Homo sapiens: one gene and its partners. The protein of the gene in region 2 purifies or fractionates together with the protein of the main gene of each other region. This does not show direct contact. Each region holds a gene or a part of one and is shown on either strand. Other genes may lie near its edges. The genes, in order: HSPBP1, FLYWCH2 and TBC1D23.

The links.
Region 1: the proteins of FLYWCH2 (region 2) and HSPBP1 purify together in Homo sapiens (affinity purification with mass spectrometry; 2 studies listed by BioGRID and IntAct, with this or other methods). This does not show direct contact.
Region 3: the proteins of FLYWCH2 (region 2) and TBC1D23 purify together in Homo sapiens (affinity purification with mass spectrometry; 3 studies listed by BioGRID and IntAct, with this or other methods). This does not show direct contact.

Annotation. Positions count from the first base shown.
Region 1 is NC_000019.10:55,277,046-55,284,868, reverse strand, and holds the start of HSPBP1 (hsp70-binding protein 1), read left to right. Parts: upstream 1-4,758; 5' UTR 4,759-4,834; exon of another isoform or gene 4,835-4,939; intron 4,940-5,012; exon of another isoform or gene 5,013-5,122; coding exon of another isoform or gene 5,123-5,260; coding exon 5,261-5,470; intron 5,471-7,022; coding exon 7,023-7,227; intron 7,228-7,823. Other genes in the region: serine/threonine-protein kinase BRSK1, read right to left, coding at 291-426. UniProt on the Homo sapiens protein: Inhibits HSPA1A chaperone activity by changing the conformation of the ATP-binding domain of HSPA1A and interfering with ATP binding. Interferes with ubiquitination mediated by STUB1 and inhibits chaperone-assisted degradation of immature CFTR.
Region 2 is NC_000016.10:2,878,321-2,886,247, reverse strand, and holds the start of FLYWCH2 (FLYWCH family member 2), read right to left. Parts: upstream 3,034-7,927; 5' UTR 2,882-3,033; intron 1-2,881.
Region 3 is NC_000003.12:100,263,977-100,271,078, reverse strand, and holds part of TBC1D23 (TBC1 domain family member 23), read right to left. Parts: intron 1-7,102. UniProt on the Homo sapiens protein: Putative Rab GTPase-activating protein which plays a role in vesicular trafficking. Involved in endosome-to-Golgi trafficking.

The DNA of each region.
Region 1 (7,823 bases), on a different chromosome or scaffold from region 2:
GGAGTCCAGGCCCCCAGGCCCTCCTCCCTCAGACCTAGGAGTCCAGTGCCCAGCCCCTCCTCCCTCAGACCCAGGAGTCCAGGCCCCCAGCCCCTCTCCTCCAGGACCTGAGTCTGCGCCCCCCACCCCCTCCATCCAGGGACCCAGGAGTCTGAATCCCAAGTCCCTTCTCTATGAGGGGCCCAGGGGTCTGGGCAGCCAGCCCCTGCCATTTGAATACCCTGAGTCCCGCCTCTGCCGCCACCTCCACCCTGCCCCCCGCCCCAGGTGTCCCCTTCTGCTAGGCTCACCTGTCTGTCCTTTGCCCAGCGTCTTCTCCAGCCGATAGGGGCCCACATATTGGGCGTGCTGGGGTGGGTGGGGGTGGGGGTGGGGGAGGTGGTAGGCGGGAGAGCCCCCACCTCCCTCCTTGGCCCCGGACGACATGGTGCCCTTGGTCCCGGCCCGACCGGTCCCCCGGCCGCCCCCCCTGCGGCCGTCGCCCCGTCTCTCCGGTGGGGGCCGGCGACCGCTCCGTCCCGGCCCCCCCGGCTGCCCCCCACCTCTCCGGGGGTCCCCAGGGGGCTGGGCTGGCCCCCCCCAGTCGGCGGGCCGCGGAGCTGGGGGAGGGGGGGCTGGCCCGGGGGGGTCAGGCCCCGGGAGTCAGCATGGCCCAGGGGGGCTGCGGGGCCCCCCCTCCCCAGCCCGTTTCTGGCCGGCCCCCCGCTTCCTGCGCCTCCCCCCGCCGGGGGGGTCTGAGGTGCGGGCCGGCGGATGCTGCAGGCCGAGGTCCCCCCCGCCCCCCCACGCGCCCTCTCTCCTCCGCCTCCTCCTCCTCTCCGCCTCCCCCCGCCACCTCGTCCTTTCTCTCCGGCACGCTGACATCACCATCCGGGGACTCCGGGCCCTTCCCCAAAGTTAACCCTTTCGGAGGGGGGAGGGGGAGCGAGGGGGGGCAGGGGGCGGGCCTCCAGCTGGAGGGATGGAGAGGAGGTGGGAGGATGCAGGAGAGAGGATGGAGGGAAGGATGGAGAGAGAGAGAGAGGACCCAACAGATGGGGCAGAGATGGAGATACACAAAGAGAGATGCTGGCTGACACAGAGACGGGAGACAGGCAGAGACGCCAGAGGGATGGAGACCACCAGAGACAGGCTGAGGCAGAGAGGGAGGAAGGGCAGAGATGGACAGGGACAGAAGAGAAGGAAGGAATGGCAAGCCGGGAAAACAGACAGGGAGAGGGAGAGAAAGCTGCTGGAAGCCGACAGAGGGATGGAGAGAGTCAGAGATTCAGAGAGACAGAGAGAGGAAGACCAACCAGAGAGGTGGGGGAGAGGGGGCGCAGATGGAGCTGTAGAGAGGGCCGGGGGTACACACAGGTGGAGGGACACGTGCTGGGGAGAGGTGGGGACATATGGAGGGAGACAGAGACAGAGAGGGGAAAGAATTCTTGGAGTTGCTGACCCAAAATTCATGTCTGTTTCCCCAGCCCCCTAAGGCCACCCATTCAGGGTAAGGGTAAGTCTGTGTCCCCACCAATGTCAAGGCCCCATATCTACCCACAGCCCAGAGTGATTTTGGATTCTCTTTACAGAGAAGCTTCCAGAACCCCCTCAGTTTCCCTGTGTTATGTTTTTAGACCCCCATATATTCTCTGTGCTCGTCATAGGGTCCTTTATATCTTCATGTGGACCCCAGTACAGCCCATACATCCCCACTGTAGCAGGTCCACAAGCATGTGCTCTGCCTGTGAGTAACCCGCCTGCCCCCATTAGCTTTCCGCATAAACCATAGATCCCTCTATGTCATGTACCCGCAAGTGTTAGACACCCATTTAATTCTCAAGTCCCCTGTAAAGCACACCCAGGGCTGGGCAAGGTGGCTCATGCCTGTAATCCCAATACTTTGGGAGACAGAGGTGGGAAGATCAGCCTGGGCAACACAGTGAGACCCCATCCCTACAAAAATTTTTTTAAAAATTAGCCGGGCATGGTGGCATGTGCCTGTAGTCCCAGCTACTTGGGAGGCTGAGGCTTGAGTCAGTGAGTTCTAGGCTGCAGTGAGCTACGTTTGCACCACTGCACTCCAGCCTGAGCAACAGAGTGAGGCCCTGTCTCTAACAAAAATAAAATAAAATAAAGTGCACACAGGAGCCTATTGGCTCCTGTGAGATTTCCCAGTCCCCCATTCAACACCTTGAGTCCACACATCTTTAATGAGTGCCAAATCTCAGCCAGGCACTGTTCCTGTTGGTAAGAACGTGGCAGTGACCTAAATCAGCAAAAAGGCCTGTCCTGTGGAGCTTCCATGCTGGTGGATGAAACAGATGATCAGCAAGGTCAATAGGCAAAATGTATGGTGTGTTAGATAATCATGTCCGTGCTGAGGAGGTGACTACAGCAGGGAAGGGGGTTAAGAGGGGCCTGTTGAGCAGGGTACAATTTTAGGCGTCCGGCTTTTTTTGTATTTTTAGTAGAGATGGAGTTTCACCCTGTTAGCCAGGCTGGTTCTGTAGCCTTTTTTTTTTTTTTTTTTTTTTTTTTTTTTTTTTTTTGAGACGGAATCTTGCTCTGTCTCCCAGGCTGGAGTGCAGTGGCACAATCTCAGCTCACTACAACCTCCACATCCTGGGTTCAAGCGATTCTCCTGCCTCAGCCTCCCGAGTAGCTGGGATTATAGGCACCCGCCACCATGCCTGGCTAATTTTTGTATTTTTAGTAGAGATGGGGTTTCACCATGTTGGTCAGGCTGGTCTCAAACTCCTGACCTTGTGATTTGCCCACCTCAGCTTCCCAAAGTGCTGGGATTACAGGCGTGAGCTACCACACCTGGCCTGGTTCTGTAACTATTGAGTCCCTTTTTGCTCTCAAATGTCTTGCTATAGATGAAAAATTATATGATCACCCTCTTTTTTTTGTTTTGTTTTGTTTTTTGAGACAGGGTCTTCCCCCTGTTGCCTAGGCTGGGGTGCAGTAGGGCAGTCATAGTTCCCTGCAGCCTCGACCTCCTGGGCTCAAGTGATCCTCCTGCCTCAGCCTCCTGCCTAGCTGTGATATAAGCAGATGCCATCACACATGGCTAATTCTTGTATTTTTTTGTAGGGCTGGGGACACACTATGTTGCCCAGGCTGGTCTCGAGCTCTTGGGTTCAAGTGATCCTCCCACCTTGGCCTCCCAAAGTACTGAGATTATAGACCTGAGCCACTGCCCCCGGCCATGTATTATAAACTGATAGACTTGTACATAGATGTCCGTGTCCTAATTCCCAGGATCTGTGCATAAGTTACCTTGCATGGCTGAAGGGACTTTGCCCATGTGACTGAGATAGGGAGATTATCCCAGTTATTTGGGTGAGCTCGATGGAATCACAAGAGTATTTGTGAGAAGGAGGCAGGAGGAGCAGTCAGTGATGGAGATGGGAAGGTGGAAGCAGAACTTGGGGTGATGGGGCCACCTGTCAAAGAAAGAGTGTGGCCTCTAGAAGCTGGAAAAGGCAAGAAAAACATTCTCCCCGAGAGCCTCCAGAAGTGATGCAATCCTGCTGACAGTTTGATTTCAGCCCCGTGAAACCCATTTTGGATTTCTGCCCTCCATAACTGCAAGATAATAAATGTGTGCTGTTTTAAGCCACCACATTCTTAGTAATTTGTTAACAGCAGCAATAGGAAACTAATATAATAGCACATCCACAGGCCCAGATGCATCTCACAGCACAGTGCTAGAAACACCACACACACACACACACACACACACACACACACATACACACACAACCTATCTGTTTGGTCTTCCTGTTTCTGCCCAAAATATCCCCCTGCACAACCACGCCCAGCAGGTGATTGATACGTTTGTGACTGTGTGCCCGTTTTGCGTTGAGCACAACCTTTTCCTGGAGGAAAACGCCTCCTATCCAGGATCAACACGGGAGTTTCTTTAAGCCCAGCCCAGGGCCAACACCTCTGCAGATCGGCCCGCACCAGCACGTGCCCAGGCCTAAACCCCACTTCTGGAGCACAGAGGCCTCGGGCCTCCCCACCAAGCTGGCTCCTCTGGCGCTCTGAATCTTGCTGGGCTCTGGGGCACTTTGCTTTCCGGCTCTAGGCCTCAAGAATCCTCTCCTCTCCACCTGGCAGGACATGGGGAAGAGTCCATGAGGGAGAGGCTGGGTGATGAGAGGGATCCACGCCGCAGCTCCACTTGACAGATGGAGAAACTGAGGCCGAGAGAGGGGTTGCGGGGGGCATAAGGCTCACAGGCCAGCCATTACGGTTGCGACCCCAGGGCTCCTGTAGATGGGGTTGGTGGCCCCGGTGGAGGCGAAAGTCAGATTAGTTGGGGCGAGGTCCCAAACCTTCTAAGGATGACTGACAGCAATGAGTGGGAGGGGCCTGTAAAGGGGCCGGGGCCCAACTGGGAGAGTCTGAAAGGCCTAGAGCAGGGGCGGGAATCGTAGGGTGGGCGGGGTCAGACCTGGGGGCGGGGCACACGTTAGAAGAGGGGTGGAGCTTGCAAAAGTATCGGGGGCGGGACTCGCTGAGGTGCGAAAACTGGGCCAGGGGCAGGGCTTTGACCAGCTACTTGAGCGTGAAGGGGCGGCGCCCGCACGAAGGGGCGTCCCAGCTTGGAGGCGGGGCCCGGATGGGAGGGGCGGGGCCGAGTGCAGTATCCCGCCAGGTGAGAAGGGGATAAGAGTCGGGCAAGCAGCTTCAGCCGCAACCACGGCACGAAGTTGGGTGGGTACGCCTGGCACTTCCGGGTGAAACCGTGCGTATTTCCGGTTAAGATGGCGGCGCCCAGCAGAGTCAGGTGCGGACGACTTTGTCTGTAGGAGCAGCGGCGGCTTGAGGACCCGGGGAGGTGAGATCCGCCTTATTCCGGCGCCCCTCTTCGGAGAGGAGGGAGAAGACTTGTTGCTAAGGAGACCAAAGGGCGGGCTTGTTGCTACGGAGGCGGAGCAGTGAGGTTGCTAAGAGACGGGACGCACGCAGTGGAGATGGGGAAGGGGGGTTGTTGCCAGGGAGAGTGGGTGGGGCCTGTTGCTAGGGAGAAAGGAGAGGCTTATGACTTTGGGGAAGGGTCCTGTGGGTATGAAGGAAGGAAAAGGGGCTGTGGTTAAGTGGGCTGGGGGCAGAGTGGTTTGGGGTCATGGGGGGTCGCCGAGCTCCCCTGAAACGCCGCCTTCTCAGCAGACCCTCAAGAATCGACCCATCAGGACGCCAGAGCTGCTTCAGCGGTGACCACCTTCTCCCTCTAACACATTCTTCCCTTCTTCACAAACGGCCCATGTCAGACGAAGGCTCAAGGGGGAGCCGCCTGCCCCTGGCGCTGCCCCCGGCCTCCCAGGGTTGCTCTTCAGGGGGCGGCGGCGGCGGCTCCTCGGCTGGGGGCTCGGGCAATTCCCGGCCCCCACGCAACCTCCAAGGCTTGCTGCAGATGGCCATCACCGCGGGCTCTGAAGAGCCAGACCCTCCTCCAGAACCGATGAGTGAGGAGGTAAAGGATGGGGACCCAAGAAGCTGGGGTGAGGGGCCTGGGGACAGATAGAGTTGCCTTGGGAAGTGTGACTTGGGGAGCCACAAGAAGACTAGGGTCTTCTTGGGTGGGAGGCAGAAAACCAGGTGTGGAGGCATTGTGGGCTATAAATTGTGCTAGATGGGGTTATCGTTGACTGAAGGTCAGATCTCAAGAGAGTCTGAGGGGACATATCCTCTCCAGAGCCAGACTAACCTGGATTCAGCATTTCCAGCTGTGTGACCTTGGGTATATTACTTCATCTTTCTGAATCTCAAGTTCTTCATTTACAAATTGATAATAATAATAACTACCGTATAGGGTAGTTCTGAGGTTCTACTTTAAGTAGGGCTGCACACAGTGCCCAGCATACAGACAGTGCTTCTGAAGGCAGCAGTGTGTTTTCATGAAGAGCACAGGCTCTGTAGTCAGACTGCTGTTTTTTTTTTTTTTTTTTGGTGGGGGCAGGGTTGGGGGTGGAGGACACAGTCTCGGCTGGAGTGCAGAGGCGCAGTCTTGGCTCACTGCAACCTCTGACTTCCCGGTTCAAGCAATTCTCATGCCTCAGCGTCCCCAGTAGCTGGGATTAGAGGCATGGGCCACCATGCCTGGCTAATTTTCGTATTTTTAGTAGAGAAGGGGTTTCACTACATTGGCCAGGCTGGTCTCGAACTCCTGGCGTCAAGTGATCCACCTGCCTCGGCCTCCCAAAGTGCTGAGATTACAGATGTGAGCCAGCACGCCCAGCCTAGACTGCTTGGGTTTGATTTCAGGCTTTGCCAATTGCTGACTGTGTGACCTTGGGTAAGTCTCAACCTTTCTGTGACTCAACTTTCTCATCTGCGAAGTGGGGATAACAATGATATATACCTCATAGAGTTGTTTTGCAGATTCATAGCGATAGCTATTATATATAATGTTTAATCGACAATTACTGTATACAGAGCATTATGCTAACCCACTTACATATATGATATCATTGAACCTTTACAACAGTGAGGCATGAAACAGGCACAGAAACATTAAATAGCTCACTCAAATTTACTTAGAACTGTGACTAAGGAGACCTCTGCTCCCCTCCCTCACCCCCAAAAATTCCAGCAGTCACGTATTAGCTCTCATCTCCTTTTTCTTTGAGATAGTCTCACTGTGTTGCCCAGGCTGGAGTGCAGTGGCCTGATCTTGGCTCACTGCAACCTCTGTCTCTCAGGTTCAAGCGATTCCCTTTGCTGCAGCCTCCCGAGTAGCTGGGATTACAGGCTCACGCCACCAGGCCTGGCTAATTTTTGTATTTTTAGTAGAGACGGGGTTTCACCATGTTGCCCAGGCTGGTCTCAAACTCCTGAGCTCAGGCAGTCTACCCACCTCGGCCTCCCAAAGTGCTGGGATTACAGGGATGAGCCACAGCTCCCAGCCGATATTTGTTGACTGAAGGAACATCAGCCCTCAGTTGTTGGCTGTCTTTATTAATGGCTGTTCCTTTGTAATGAATGACTGATGGATCTCCTTCTTTCCTCCTCGCCTTGGTCTCCAGAGGCGTCAGTGGCTGCAGGAGGCCATGTCGGCTGCCTTCCGAGGCCAGCGGGAGGAGGTGGAGCAGATGAAGAGCTGCCTCCGAGTGCTGTCACAGCCCATGCCCCCCACTGCTGGGGAGGCCGAGCAGGCGGCCGACCAGCAAGAGCGAGAGGGGGCCCTGGAGCTGCTGGCCGACCTGTGTGAGAACATGGACAATGCCGCAGGTACCCCGCTTCCCCCGCCAGGACGTTCTGCCCCTCTGTACATGTCCTGCTGCCTCTCAGCTCTTGCCCCTACTCTTGGGGCTCACACCGTCAGCCTCCCTGCTGCCTTCTCACCATCAGCCTGTTCGCCTCCATTGCCATAAGGAGCAAGGCTCTGCCTCACCCTCATGGCAGGTGGAGTCCCCCACTTCCCTGATCAGCTCTGAGATGGCTGTTTCTCTCCTAGTCCTCTGGGTGTCCACTGCCACTCCCCAGAGTACAAGAGGGAAAGTGGCATGGGTGGGGTGGCAGAGAAGGCCTCCCCGGGGTGACGTTTGATCAGAGACCTGAAGTGAGGTGAGAGTTGTGGGATGATCTCTGGGAAAAGCATTCCAGACAGTAGGAACAGCCAGTGCAAAGGCCCTGAGGCCAGAGTGTGCCTGGTGTGTTCAGGAACAGCAGCCAGGCCCTTGAGGCAGAGTAGAGTGAGTGAGGGGCCAGGCGCAGGAAACAGCGCTGGGGTGGGCCTCGCAGATGGGGAGGTAAATGCTGTTTTACTCCAAGCAGCAGAGCTCACAGAAGGTTTGAGGAGAGCTCACTTCCATTTGGAGGGGTTG
Region 2 (7,927 bases):
CTGCACTACACTGCACTGCAGCCTGGGCATCAAAGTGGTACTCCGTCTAAAAAAAAAAAATAATAACAATAATAATAATAATGGGCAAAGGCTCCAAACAGGCTTTTCTCTAAAGAAGATATACAAATGGCTAATATATGAGAAGATGCTCAACATCATTAGTCACCAGGGAAATGCAAATCAAAACCACAATGAGATATCACTTCACACCACCAGGATGGACATAATAAAACAAACAAAAAACAGATAATAGCAAGTGCTGGTGAGGATGAGGAGAAACTGGAACCCTCATACACTGCTGAGGGGAATGTAAAATGGTGCAGCCATTTTTGGAAACCAGCCTGGCAGTTCCTCAAAAGGTTAAATGTAGAGTTACCCTATGACCCAGCAATTCCACTACTAGCTATATGCCTGGAAGAAAGGAAAACACATGTCCACATAAAAATGTGTACATGAATGTTACAGTTGCATTATTCATGAAAGCCAAAACGTTTCGATGGATATTCAAAACAGCCCAAATATCCATCAATGGATGAATGAATAAGTACAATGTGGTGCATGTATAAAATGGAATATTATTTGGCAGTAAAAAAAATCTATGCTACAACATGAATGAACCTTGAAGAAATTATGCTCGGTAAAAGAAGCCAGACCCAAAAGACCACATATTATATGATTCCATTTACATGAAATTACTTAGAGTCTAGAGAATCTACAGAGTAGGAAAATCTATGGAGACAGAACGTAGATTTGTGGTTATCTCGGGATTGGGGTGGGGAAGGGGAGAATGAGAATTGACTACTAGTGGGTATGTGCTTTATGGGGTGATGAAAATGTCCTAAAAGGAATTTTCATGAGGGTTGCACAACTTTGTGATCACACTAAAGCCACTGAACTGTATATTTTTTTTTTTGTTTTGTTTTGTTTTTTTGAGACGGAGTCTCGCTCTGTCGCCCAGGCTGGAGTGCAGTGGCGTGATCTCACTGCAAGCTCCGCCTCCCGGGTTCACGCCATTCTCCTGCCTCAGCCTCCGGAGTAGCTGGGACTACAGGCGCCTGCCACCACGCCTGGCTAATTTTTTGTATTTTTAGTAGAGACGGGGTTTCACCGTGTTAGCCAGGATGGTCTCGATCTCCTGACCTCGTGATCCGCCCTCCTTGGCCTCCCAAAGTGCTGGGATAACAGGCGTGAGCCACCGCGCCCGGCCGAAATGTACACTTTAAATGGGTAAATTGCACGGTATGTGAATTATCTCAATAAAGTTGTTAAATATTCAGAAAAAGGTAAATTGAGTCTATGAACATATGAACAGCAGTTCCCCAATGTCACTATCCCTAAGAATCACCCGGAGTTTTTTTTTTGTTTTTGTTTTTTAGACGGAGTATCGCTCTTGTCGGCCAGGCTGGAGTGCAGTGGCGCGACCTTGGGTCACTGCAACCTCTGCCTCCCGGGTTCAAGCCTTTCTCCTGTCTCAGCCTCCCAAGTAGCTGGGATTACAAGCGTGCACCACCACACCCGGCTAATTTTGTATTTTTAGTTGAGACGGGGTTTCTCCATGTTGGTCAGGCTGGTCTCGAACTCCCGACCTCAGGTGATCCACCCTCCTTGGCCTCCCAAAGTGCTGGGATTACAGGCGTGAGCCACCGCGCCGGCCCCGACTAATTTTTGTATTTTTTTTTTTTTTTTTTTAGTAGAGACGGGGTTTCACCATGTTAGTCAGAATGGTCTCTATCTCCTGACCTTGTGATCTGCCTGCCTCGGCCTCCCAAAGTGCTAGGATTACAGGCGTGAACCACCGCGCCCGGCCTGTGTTGCTTTAAGCCACCTTATTTGTTAGGACAGCAACAGGAAACTAATACAAGGTTCAATCCCTCACTGACGATGTTCTGGACGACAGGACCCCTGCCTGGTGCCTCATGGTGGACCCACAGAATCATCTTCATACGCACGGGGGAGAAACATCACTAATGTCCACCAGCACCGGCATCCTCAGCCGCGAGGACAAATCCCTTACCCTCCCAGCAGGTTTCATCTGCGTAACGGAAATAGTGGTGAATTTATCAGGGGCTGTTAATAGATGACAGGCAAGGGTGAAGTCATCGCAAAAGTTCCCAGACGATATGGACAGCTGCTCCCCAATAATTACTGCTCCACGCAGTCCACAGCGGGGCTGTTATTGACCCCGACAGGATGACGGGACACTAAGGTGTGCAGTACACGTCCTCACAGGGAGATTTAAAAAACCGGCAGTGACCCCTGCCCCAAGAAGGCCAAGAACTGCTACTCTAAGGTGTGCAGCGCGGAGCTTCCCCACCATGGCAATTTCAGCCATGGCAGCTCCTTCCCCTAATCACCAGGGCTCAGAATCTTTATTTCACTCCTTTACCCAATGCAATTGGCATCAAACGCGGGCTGGGCTGCGCCCAAATGGTCCCAGCTCCCCGGCTCTCTCCTCTCTCAAGAATACCCACACCCTGAGGCCCCGAGTGTCTCCCCCGCCCCAGTATCTCACGCCTCCAACTCGCTGCCGTCCCTGCAGGGACCTCCCGAGCTGCAACCGTGGGACGAGGCCGGCGGGGGTTGGGGGGTGCCGGGAAGGCAGCGCTGGGCGCGGCGGACACGGCCAGGGACCGGCGGGCGAGTGCGGACCTCCTTCGTGTGGGGGTGTTGAGGCTTTGGACAAGGGACTGGAGGGGGTGGGGAAGGAGGGGCGAGAGGCAAAGAGGGAATCGCGGGAGACCCCACAGGAGGCGGCCTGAGCACCAGGACGCGGACCCCTCCTCAGCACCCGCAGCCCTCGGGACCCCCGAGAGAGCCGGGCCGGGGACTCGTCCATGCCGAGGACGCAGGACCCTCCCCGCCCGCCAGGGCCCGTCCTCACCGACGACAGCGGTGCCCTCCCTCTCCGGCGACAGCGCCGCGGCGGGTCCCTCAGCCTCCGCGCCAAGGGCCCCAGCCTCAGCTCGCGCTGTTACCTCAAGCCGGGGTCACAGCGCGAGCATGCGCAGCAAGGCCGCGGGTGCCCTGTCTTCTGGCTGGGGCCGCTCCTCCGCGTCTTGCCCGTGCGGCGTAGAGCTGGCGTCCGGCCAATCGGAGGGCGGAGGCGGGGCCAAAATTCAGTAAGGGGGCGGGGACACCCGGGATTGAGTGTCGCCGTCAGGGGCGGAGCCTCGGGGGACCTGCGGCCTGGATCCGGGTTGCGGGCGAGGTTATCCCAGCACCAGTGGGTTGGGCTTCACTGCGACCCCCGGGCTTCCTCACGGATTTGACTCCGGCTCTCTGCGGGGAAAACTGGAGCATTTGTTTAAAGGTTTTGCTCTCCCCCGTCGCGATACCGAGCGTGCGGAGGGAAGGTGTTTAGGCTCATGGAAGCCACTGCCTTGCTTTAAGCTCTGCATCCTTGACGACGCAGCAGCCTCATCCGCGCCATTGGTCCAGCCCTCGTCTATTAGTTTAGCCCCTGCCCATTGGTCCAGCCCTCGCCCAATAGTCCCGCCCTCTCTCTGTAGTTCAGCCCCTGTCCATTCATCCTTTCTCGTTATTGGTCCAGCCCTGGCCCATTGGGCCCACCCGTGCCCACGGGCCCCGCCCTCTCCGTGCCCAACCACGTTCACCCGGCCCAAGGGGTGCCCGGGACACTCGCCATCCTCCAGCCACCCACTGCAGTGGGACTGGGCTGGGTCCGGGCACAGGGAGCTGTGGGGCCCTGGGCGCTGCTTTCCTGGGACACTTGGCTGCAGCGTCCAGAGCGGCCCCCGCACAGCCCCCTAGGCTCACCGCGGCTCTCCCAGCCCCGCGGGGTCGCCCCCACTACCCCGGCCACCTTGGTCCCCCTAAGCCTGGCTCCGCGCCCCGCCCCCCTCGCTCTAAAGCGGCCGCTGAATGTGCCACCGCCCCAGGGCTCCAGGGTCCAGGTCGAGATCCTCTGGGGCCTCCCGCACCTTCCGCCTTCTCACGTCCGAATGCCAGCGTCGCTGCACGCCCTTCCTCTGCCCTGCCCCTCCCGGCCCTGGCTCTGCAGGTCTCTGAATCCCACCGTGGACTCCGCTACCAAGGCTCCCGCTGCCCCCATCCCACTATCCTATCTCCCCGGGCATTGTCTGGTGTCATTCAAGGCCTTTGTGCTTTTTTTTTTTTTTTAGAAACGAGAATTGCGCTCTGTCGCTCAGGCTGGAGTGCAGTGGCGTGATCTCGGCTCGCTGCAACCTCTGCCTCCCGGGTTCAAGCAATTCTCATGCCTCAGCCTACTGAGTAGCCGGGATTACGGGCGCCCGCCACCACGCCCGGCTAATTTTTGTACTTTTAGTAGAGACGGGTTTCACCATGTTGGCCAGGCTGGTATTGAACTTCTGACCTCAGGTGATCCACCCGCCTCGGCTTCCTAAAGTGCTGGGATTACAAGAGTGAGCCACCGTGCCCAGCTACCTTTGTGCATTTATTTGCTGTTATCTATTAATCATTCACAGACTACTGGTTGTTTTTAACTTGATGATGTTATAAATATCTTTGTATATGAATCTCTGATGTCAAAGATTTTTTTTTTTTTTTTTTGAGATGGAGTCTCGCTCTGTCGCCCAGGCTGGAGTGCAGTGGCGTGATCTCTGCTTATTGCAACCTCCGCCTCCCGGGTTCAAGCGATTTTCCCGCCTCAGCCTCCCAAGTAGCTGAGATTACAGGCACCGGTAATCATGCTTAATTTTTATATTTTTGTAGAGATGGGATTTCACCATGTTGGCCAGGCTGGTATCAAACCGGAGTTACCTCCGGTGATCTGCCCACCTCGGCCTCCAAAAGTGCTGGGATTAGACATGTGAGCCACCTTGCCTGTCGAGATATTAAAGATTTTTTTTTTTTGAGACAGAGTCTCACTCTGTTGGCAAGACCGGAGTGCAGTAGCACGATCTCAGCTCACTGCAACCTCCGCCTCCTGGGTTCAAGTGGTTCTCCTGCCTCAGCCTCCCAAGTAGCTGAGATTACAGGCGCCTGCCACCGCACCCAGCTAATTTTTTTGTATTTTTAGTAGAGACGGAGTTTCACCATCTTGGCCAGGCTGGTCTTGAACTCCTGACCTCGTGATCCACCCGCCTCAGCCTCCCAAAGTGCTGGGATTACAGGTGTGAGCCACCGCACCCAGCCAAAGATTTCTTGAAAGTCTTAAAAGAGGTCAAAGGAGGCAAATATTTTTAAAAGCTTTTTAAACATGTAGCCAAATTGTCCCCAAGGAAGTGCACAAGCTTGGGGTTAGATGCTTGGGTTCAAGTCCCTGCTGTGTCAATTGCCAGCTGTGTGAATGAGCAATTACATCCCCTCTCTGTGCCTCAGTGTCTTCACCTGATAAATGGGGGTGATAACGCACCCACCTCCTACAGCCATTGTGAGAATTCACAGAGTATTGTCATGTGGACTGATAAGAGTCTTGGTTGTTTTCTGTTTCTTTTTGTTTTTGTTTGAAACAGAGTTTCACTCTTGTTGCCCAGGCTGGGGTGCAGTGGTGTGATCTCGGCTGACTGCAACCTCCACCTCCTGGGTTCAAGTGATTCTCCTGCCTCAGCCTCCCAAGTAGCTGGGATTACAGGTGCCCGCCACTAAGCCCGGCTAATTTTTTTTGTGTTTTTAGCAGAGACGGGGTTTCACTATGTTGTCCAGGCTGGTCTTGAACACCTGACCTTGTGATCCACCCATCTCGGCCTCCCAAAGTGTTGGGATTACAGGCATGAGCCACCGTGCCTGGTGAGTCTTGGTTTTAAAATTTATATTCCTTAGTCCAGCAATTCTCAAACTTTCTGGTCTCAGAACCACTTATGACACAGGATTTTTCAGTGCCCCTTAGTCAGCCAGAGACCTCCATGGCCAGCAGCACCCCTGTTCAGGCCTCCCTTGGCCTGGGCTCGGTGCAGGAGACACCCCACCCATTCCGCCATTTGTGTCATGTTACAGCTCTTTCAATCCCGCTGCCCCCCTTGGGTCCTCAGCTTCAGGGCTGGCCCAGCCCACTGCTATTTCCTCTTGCCTGGGCAGGTTCTGGGGGTGGGTGGAGGGCTACAGTGTTACAGCCTTTTTCCTACCAGTGGTAGACCCTCCAGAGTTCTTGTCCCACATCCAAGAAGAATGAGGTTATGCTGACAGCCAGTGGGTGAGCAGGGTGAAGAGTTTTATTGAGCTAACAAACAGCTCTCAGCGAAGAGGGGACCCTCTCAAAGTCGGGTAGTTCCCCCCGCCATGGTGTGTAGACCCCAAGTGTGGCTGAGTCTGAGGTTTTTATTGGCTCAGAATGGGGGAGTGCATGCTGATTGGTTTCTGAGTATGCAAAAAAGGCTTAAAAGGCACTCAAAATTGGGCATGACAGTGTAAACAACCAGTTAGGGAAGGGTAGGTGTATGTAAAATAGGTGAAATGTGGGGATCAGTCAGAGGAAAGTGGGCCACACGGGAAGAGAGGTTCTCAGTATGTTCCATGAATTTATCAGAGACTTGTAGCTTGGTTTTCAGGCTTTAAAATGTCTTTGGTTTGAAGGCCAGTTTCACCAGGGATGGGATCTGTCTCTGTCTGCCTGGGGATTTGTCTGCCTCCTGCCGCCATCATTTTCACTGTTAGTTATTGAGACGCTCAGAGAGATTTTAGTTATGTGGGTTACATCTATCAATATTTACTATATAGAAATTTAGGCTGGGTGCAGTGGCTCATGCCTGTAATCCCACCACTTTGAGAGGCCAAGGCAGGTGGATCACCTGAGGTCAGGAGTTTGAGACCAGCCTGGCCAACATGGTGAAACCCAGTCTCTACTAAAAATACAAAAATTAGCAGGGTGTGGTCGTCGTGGGCGACTGTAATCCCAGCTACGTGGGAGGCTTGAACCCGGGAGGCAGAGGTTGCAGTGAGACAAAACAATGCCACTGCACTCCAGCCTGGGCAACAGAGTGAGGAAAAAAAACAAGACGGCTGGGTGCAGTGGCTCACGCCTGTAATCCCAGCAGTTTGTGAGGCTGAAGCAGGCAGATCATGAGGTCAGGAGTTCGAGACTAGCCTGGCCAACATGGTGAAACCCCATCTCTACTAGAAATACAAAAAAATTAGCCATGTGTTTTGGCATGTGCCTGTAATCCCAGCTACTCCAGAGGCTGAGGCAGAATTGCTTAAACCAGAGCCGCGGGTGGCGGTGGCAGGTTACAGTAAGCCAAGATCATGCTACTGCACTTCAGCCTGGGCGACAGAGCAAGACTCCGTCTTGGAAAAAAGGAACTTAAACTGATAAATTTAAAAACAGATTTATTAAAAACAGTGGTAATTAACCCACTGTATATCTTTAAACCAAAGGAATCAGTGAGTGGCAGTGTTTACACTTTTAAAAATCACTTTAGTGGCTGGGCGCGGTGGCTCACGCCTGTAATCCAAACATTTTAGGAGGCCGAGGCAGATGGAGCACCTGAGGTCAGGAGTTTGAGACCAGACTGGCCACCATGGTGAAACCCTGTCTCTATCAAAAATACAAAAATTAGCTGGACGTGGTGGCATGCACCTGTAATCCCAGCTACCCGGAAAGCTGAGGCATGAGAATTGCTTGAACCCAGGAGGCGGAGGTTGCGGTGAGCCGAGATCGCGCCACTGCACTCCAGCCTAGGTGACAGAGCAAGACGCCGTCTCAAATAAATAAATAAATAAATAATAAAAATCACTGGCCCGGCGCGGTGGCTCACACCTGTAATCCCAGCACTTTGGGAGGCTGAGGTGAGCAGATCACGAGGTCAGGAGTTCAAGACCAGCCTGGCCAACACAGTGAAACCCCACCTCTACTAAAAATACAAAAATTAGCTGGGCTTAATGGCGCGAGTCTGTAATCCCAGCTACTCACGTGGCTGAGGCAGGAGAATCGCTTGAACGCGGCGGGCAGAGGTTGCAGTGAGCTGAGATCATGCCACTGCACTCCAGC
Region 3 (7,102 bases), on a different chromosome or scaffold from region 2:
AAATTCATGAAGCCTCTCAGTCTATCAACTAAGCTAAGTCAGCTTCACTAATCTTCAAAATTCTTAAAATTGAATCCTTTTCTGTAATTATAAAAATAATGAAGACTAGCAGTTTTTAAAGGACCAAGTAGGGTCTATAATGTATGTAATCACTCTACACTTAAATGCAGAGTATAGAGAAATTACAAAGAAAATCCAATTACCACATTAAAAAAAATTAATATTGTGTCTTAAAGTGGCCAAAGTCTAAGATTTATTATTGTTTTCTTAAAATAAAAATACAAAAGCTACACTACTGGGAAATCAATAAAAGCCCAAAGCCTGACATGATGTTAAAAAATAACATCTTAAATATGTTATTTCTATTGCATATGATATTATTCAAACCTGTGAGTCTGCTAACAGTATTAAACAGAGCCAAGAGAAAACAAATGAACTCAGAAACCTTCACTGAAAGTACTTCTAGCATTCAAAAATATAACCTGTGATTATCTCCTTTCCTTTAAAATTTTCACATTTACTTACTTAAAGGGTCCTATATATAAATATAACCTACTCCCCATCAAAAAGTCATCTCTCTCCTTCCTTTTACAGTTCAACTTCCTTGAAAACAGTAGTCTCCACTCACCTAAACTTACTCTCTCATTCACCCAAAACCTCTATCACTCTACTAAAGGTGCTCTCAGAAGTCATTAGTCATCTTTCTCAGCTCTCGTCCCCTTTACATACACTGCAAAGTTTGACTGTCTTCTTAAAACACTCTCATTTAGATTTTCCTCTGCTTTCCTAACCCATATACTGAATTATTTCCTTCCCTGACATAAGTATTCTTTTATTCAAACCTTCAACACGTATGTATTGAGCACCTACTACAGGCTACTCACTGTGTGAGGCACAGGGGATGCAGTACAGAAAAAAAAAGTCAATGCTCTTATGTAGCTTACATGCCAGATGGCTATTCCAAGGTTCTAGTCCAAGTCCTATCATCTAAATCCTGTTGAACAGAGGTGGGAGCGGCTCTGAAGTGCAATTTATTCATATTTGTTTAGAATGTAAATCACTGTAAGCTCAGATTAAACCATGACAGCCCAGCTTGTCCATGTACATATCCTAATCAGGTATAAGCCTCTGACCAATTACTTAAAACTCTAAAGTGAATACCTAATTAGTCATAAGCACTAGCAAATTGTGGAACAGTGAGTAAGCAGTGGCAAGCTGCATGTATTGAATTGTGGTTTCATGGCTTAATTTGTGCCACCACATTTCTGGGGGTTTCTTAATGCCCAGGGAATGAGACATCAGCACCAAAGCTTTGTCTGAACTTATTTTGCTACTATTGTTAGGACGCTGGTTACAAAGTACTACCATAACAAAACTCCTTAATTAGTTCTTGAATATTCTGTATGACATTTGGTAGAAATGAAAAGAGAAAACTTTGCTACAGATTCACTTGTACAGTAGATATGCATGGAGCTCAAGGACCACAGTATGTCTTGTGCAACTTATTTTTAAATACCAACCTCAAACCATCAAAACTTTCCAAGTATTTCAATAGTATGATAGCACATTCAGAAAAGACCTTGACAACTTAAAGTCTTGTGAGAACAATTTGATACAATTTGATAATTGTGAAGTTATCTAGATTTGTGTCAGAATCAGACATGCTTGTTACAAGCATTTTAACAAGTTACAAATTTATATGCCAAGGGGAAAAACACCCATTCACCAGCTTTAAACAATTTGTAAAATTTTGCATTAGGACCAGATCCACAAAAACAGCTTTGGGAGATTCCCTTATGAATAATGTAATCTCTAGAATTTGTGTTTTAATCAGGATCTTGAGCCAAGTAAAGACGGTGCTAAATCTAGTCCTCTTGGCTTCACAAGGCAAATTTAATAGCTACAGTATTTCATCATTGTATGCAATAGGCAAAAGGGCTAGAGATCACAGAAATGTTATTCTATAAGCTACTAAAATTAACTACAAATGGAACAGGTGTTTTAAATCTTAGATTTATTTTTGATCCACAATCCATGAAGATCAAATTACACCAATGGTACCAACGGTGCCCTTTTCTCTGCTAAGAAAAAAACTCAGTTGTTGCCTAAGTAAAAAATAAAAAGATACACAAAAAACGTTTCTCATAACTATATGTGTAATGTTGCAATGCATTTGCTATAAGATTTTGACTACAAAATTGGAAATTTCTCTAATGAGCAGTCAACTTCAGCGAGCACTCTAAATCCTTTCTTCTTTCATGTTTTCTTAAAATAAAAATCCTCAACACTGTTCCCTTCTATACATATGAGGTGACTTTTCAGTATTTTTAAGGCACAAAGAAATGCATCCTTGTTTTTCCACCCCACTAATGCAGTTTATTTGGAAACTAAAAACAGAGTGTAACTTTTGCCTAAGATAGAGAATGGCACGAAAACAGCAAAGAGAGAGAGATATTACCTATGTCAATTACAAATTTCCACTTTATCCAAAGTGTAATGATAAAAGAAACATTACCAACATTCCTTGTCTTGAAACTATCATTTCAGAAACATAGTTGTTATAAAGAAACAACTACAGCAAATGAAGTGACAACACTTTGCAACATTTGGACAATTCTCAAGGGTACTATGCCAATGGGGATCATAGTTTGGCAAAGAAATACATATTGGGTTTTTTTTTAAGCTGGATTCCAACCATCAAGGAACATTTTTTTTGATAAAAGGATTTCATTGAATTTCATGCTGATGGTTAATCTAAATGGAATTCACAAAATAAAGGATTTCTAGTATTCAAATTGCACATATATATGAGATGAATAAATCTTTTGCATCACAAAGTGATGCACAGAGGCTTCAAAATAAAGGTTAGAAACTGTTTAAAGGAAAAATAACCCATGGACATCATTATTATTATTATTAGAGACAGAGTCTCACTCTGTCACCAGGCTTGGTGTGCACAGCTCACTGCAGCCTCGATTCATCCCGTTAAAGCAATCCTTCTGCCTCAACCTCCCAAGTAGCTGGGACTACAGGTTTGTGCCACCAAGTCTGGCTAATTTTTTTTATTTTTAGTAAAGACGAGGCCTCACTATGTTGCCCAGGATGGTCTCGAACTCCTGAGCTCAAGCAATCCTCCCACCTTGGCCTCCCCAAGTGATGGGATTATAGGCATGAGCCATCATGCCCAATGCATAACTTTGCTTTCTCATAGAGCTGTTTTAAGATCCAAATGAGATGTTATTAATATATATAAGCATTATATATAAAGAGTAACGCTCTATGCAAATGTACAGTATTTTCTTATATAGGTGGAGCATCCCAAATCCAAGAATCCCAACTCCGAAATGCTCCAAAATCTGAAACTCTTGAGCACCAACATGATACTCACAGGAATGCTCATTGGAGCATTATGGATTTCAGATTTTTGATTAGGGATGCTCAACCGGTTAAGTATAATGCAAGTATTCCAAAGAGATATTCAACCTGTATATCTCCTTGCTGAAATTATTAAATACCACCATAACAACTAGTTTAATGTAACAACTACTTTAAAATAAAAAAGAAGCAAACACTACAAGATTTCCACCCAACTATCAAATGCTATGTCAGCTAAAGGATAAGAAAAAACTCCTTTAAGCATCAAGAAAAAAGATGAAGACTTGCAACAAATGACTTTATTAGTCATCATTTTCTTAACTCAGGTTAAAAAGTTACGCAGACCCTTGAAACAAACAGACATTAAATTTCAGAAAATAGGTTTAAGTGGCTCTTAAATTCTTTATTTCTACAAGAAAGAATTTGATTTTATGAGCTTAATGGAAGGTACTTACCTGCTTTCCATCTGTAATTCTCAATATTTAACTCATTTCAAGCCCTGCCCCTTTTCAAACTGTTTAATCCTATTATTTTCTGTTAGAGCCTGTAATTTCCAAAACACCAGCATTTAGATATCTTCAGAAGCTATTTTCACACAGTATTCCTAGAGATAAAATGATGAAAAAAATCAAAGTATCCCAGGAAGGCACCACAATGCACATTCCTGATTGTAAAACTGTTTCAAATTTTTTTCTAAAACCTTACACAGCAGCTTGAATATAACCACTATTCAGTGAATGTTTGCTGAACTGAGAATGTTTTTGCTAAACTCTATTTTGCTTTTTGACACATGAGAGAAGGCACTGTCTTTATACCAAAAAGAATCCACATTTCAGCACTGTGCATCAGAAATGCTTTGTCAAGCATATTTTCTCAATTCTCTCCAGAAGACTCCTACTTAAAAGTTGGCTGCATATTACAGTATATTTAACTGGGTGCTCTGAATTGCTCACTATACTTACAGAGGGAATGCACTTGTCGCCTCTCTGCAGTGATTACACAGAGATAAAAATGAATTAATTGAAATACATTTATTTAGCATGCAAAAACCAATTACTAACTCAAATTATGGATATTAAAACATCCACAGGAAACAAAATCCTAGAAGTGAATTATTACCTAAGAATTACCTTTAGGCTGGGTGCAGTGGCTCATGCCTGTAGTCCCAACACTGTGGTAGGGTGAGGAGGGTGGATCACCTGAGGTCAGGGGTTTGAGACCGGCCTGGCCAACATGGTGAAACCCCATCTCTACTAAAAATACAAAAATTAGCCGGGCATGGTGGCACATGCCTGTAATCTTAGCTCCTTGAGAGACTGAGGCAGGAGAATCCCTTGGACCCAGGAGGCGGAGGATGCAGTGAACCAAGATCGCACACTGCACTCCAGCCTGGGTGACAGAATGAGACTCCGTCTCAAAAAAAAAAAAATTACCTTTAAAAACTCTAAAATCTAAATTATAATTAAAGACTTTAATGTAAACAGTATAAAATAAGTCTTTTTCATTTCTTATCTTTGCCTGCCCTCTAATTATAGTTTACAAAATCAAATAACTGTCACATCATAACCCCAATTCAAAAAATGAAGTTCATTTTCTCATTTCTTCTAAAAGTAGTATCCAGCCTTCCCAGTTCCACAAGTAGACAATGTCCTTCTTAGACAAACAGTTCCTTTTTCTTTTACATTTAATATATTTCTTTATTGATTATATCATATCTGAAATTTCAATCACTTAGTTCTTAAAAGACATTTTAAGTTTTTTCTCATATTTCAATGCTTATTAAATGGGGAACACTGATAGTACTATTTACAGAGTGCAGAAAACTTTGAAAAATATTATTCTCAAACAATTCCTACTCACATCTCAGATTAACAACAATAGAAGATTCTTTGTGGAATTAATATTTTTACAATTTTAAGAAAAGTTTAGCAATAACTTAAGAAAGGTTTAGCAATAAAAAACCCTAATTAAAAGTTGAATATTAAGTAACATTTTTTAATTAAACAAACTCCCAATTTCAACAGTTATATAATTGAAGTCAATACCAAAATAATTTTTTAATTATGACTATAGATCTTTAGACATTATTTTGGGAAGAAAGTATCGGAAAATGAGAACATATGTTCAAATCCAGTGCTAGTTTCTTCAATACCAAGGAGGGTAATTACCAATCTTTTCACTGTAACAATTTAACATGTTTAATTTTACAAATCCAGATTCTCATAACTTATATTAATTTTTTAAAATTAAATTCAAATCACTTAAAACTAACTATAAGCATTTTTACAAGAATTTCACCACACCCTTTGAGCTTACATGGCTGAATCCCAGGGAGCTTGAAAGCTGAGGCATTTTCTGATTACTTTGGCTTTCCATAAAGAATAAGCATTATACCAACAGACAATTCCACAGCTCACAAAAACACTGGAGTCAGGAAATTTATATGAAATGACAGCTTAGTATGCTATTGCACATAATTACAGGAAAGTTTTCATTCATGCGTACATTCATTCAATAAACATTTACTGAGACACCTGCCTTTTATCAGCCACTGCCCTTGAGAAGTTCATTATCTAAAGAACAATGATAAGTCATGTAATTACACATATTTTAGTATAACATGTAAGGTGATACAATGTGACATATACAAATTCCTCTGACCTACTCATTCTGATATATATATAACCTAGAACCCTGCTAACTTAAGTGTGGTCCATAAACCACCAGAATTGGCAACCCCCAGCAGCTAGTCAGAAACAGAGACTCTCAAGTTCCACCTCAAAATATATTGAATCACAATCACAGTTACCTGGAGAGCATTTTAACAAGCTCCCCAGATAATTCCAATGTACGTTTAAATTTTGAGAAGCAGTGAACTAGAACATAACTGAAAATCAGCAAAAACAATGTCATAGAGTCCACATACTTTTAAGATCTTCAAGGTCCATCCTGAGCCTTTTTAAGAATGTATATACAATTTCAACAAGTTCAATGGCTTAGTTTCACAGACTAGGAACAAATTGAGATACCACTGACAACAAAAAAAGAAAATAGGAAAAACTTATAAAAAGCAATCTCAAAAAGGGATAGCTGTGTCACTTAACATAGCAACAATTTGTCTAGATAGGCCCTAAAAGTCTCACCACATTACAATAACACAAAAGTAATCGATGTTCTCAAACATGCCTCCTGTATCTAGAACATAAATTCCCTGAGGACAGAGACCTAGTTCTATCCTTAAATTACACTTACATTTGTAAACTGAATGACTCAAGTCATTAAGATGAGTTTGAGCTAGGCAGTAAGATATATGATACATTTTAGAAAAAATTCCATCTGACAGAGTTAAAATAAAAACATTTACTCCAAAAAGAAAGAGAGATAAAGAAAGAGAGGGAGGGAGGGGGAGGGGAGAGAAAGACAGAGTAGAACACCCGGATGGATGGGGCACACCTGTAGTCCCCAGCTACTCAGGAGTATGAGGCCAGCCTGGGCAACATGGCGAGACCTCGTTTCTTCAACAAAACAAAACAAAACAAGAGTAAAGCATCCCCATTCTATAACCCATTCACCAAGCACTCTAAGAACAGAGCCTTTACTGAACCTCTGGCTCCCAATCCCAAAGTCTTCCTATTCAAATCCTCTTCTGGGGGGCTGATGAGAGTGCCAGGATAAAAAGGAGAAAGATTAGAAGAGGATGGAGGGAAAACAGAAATCACCGACCATG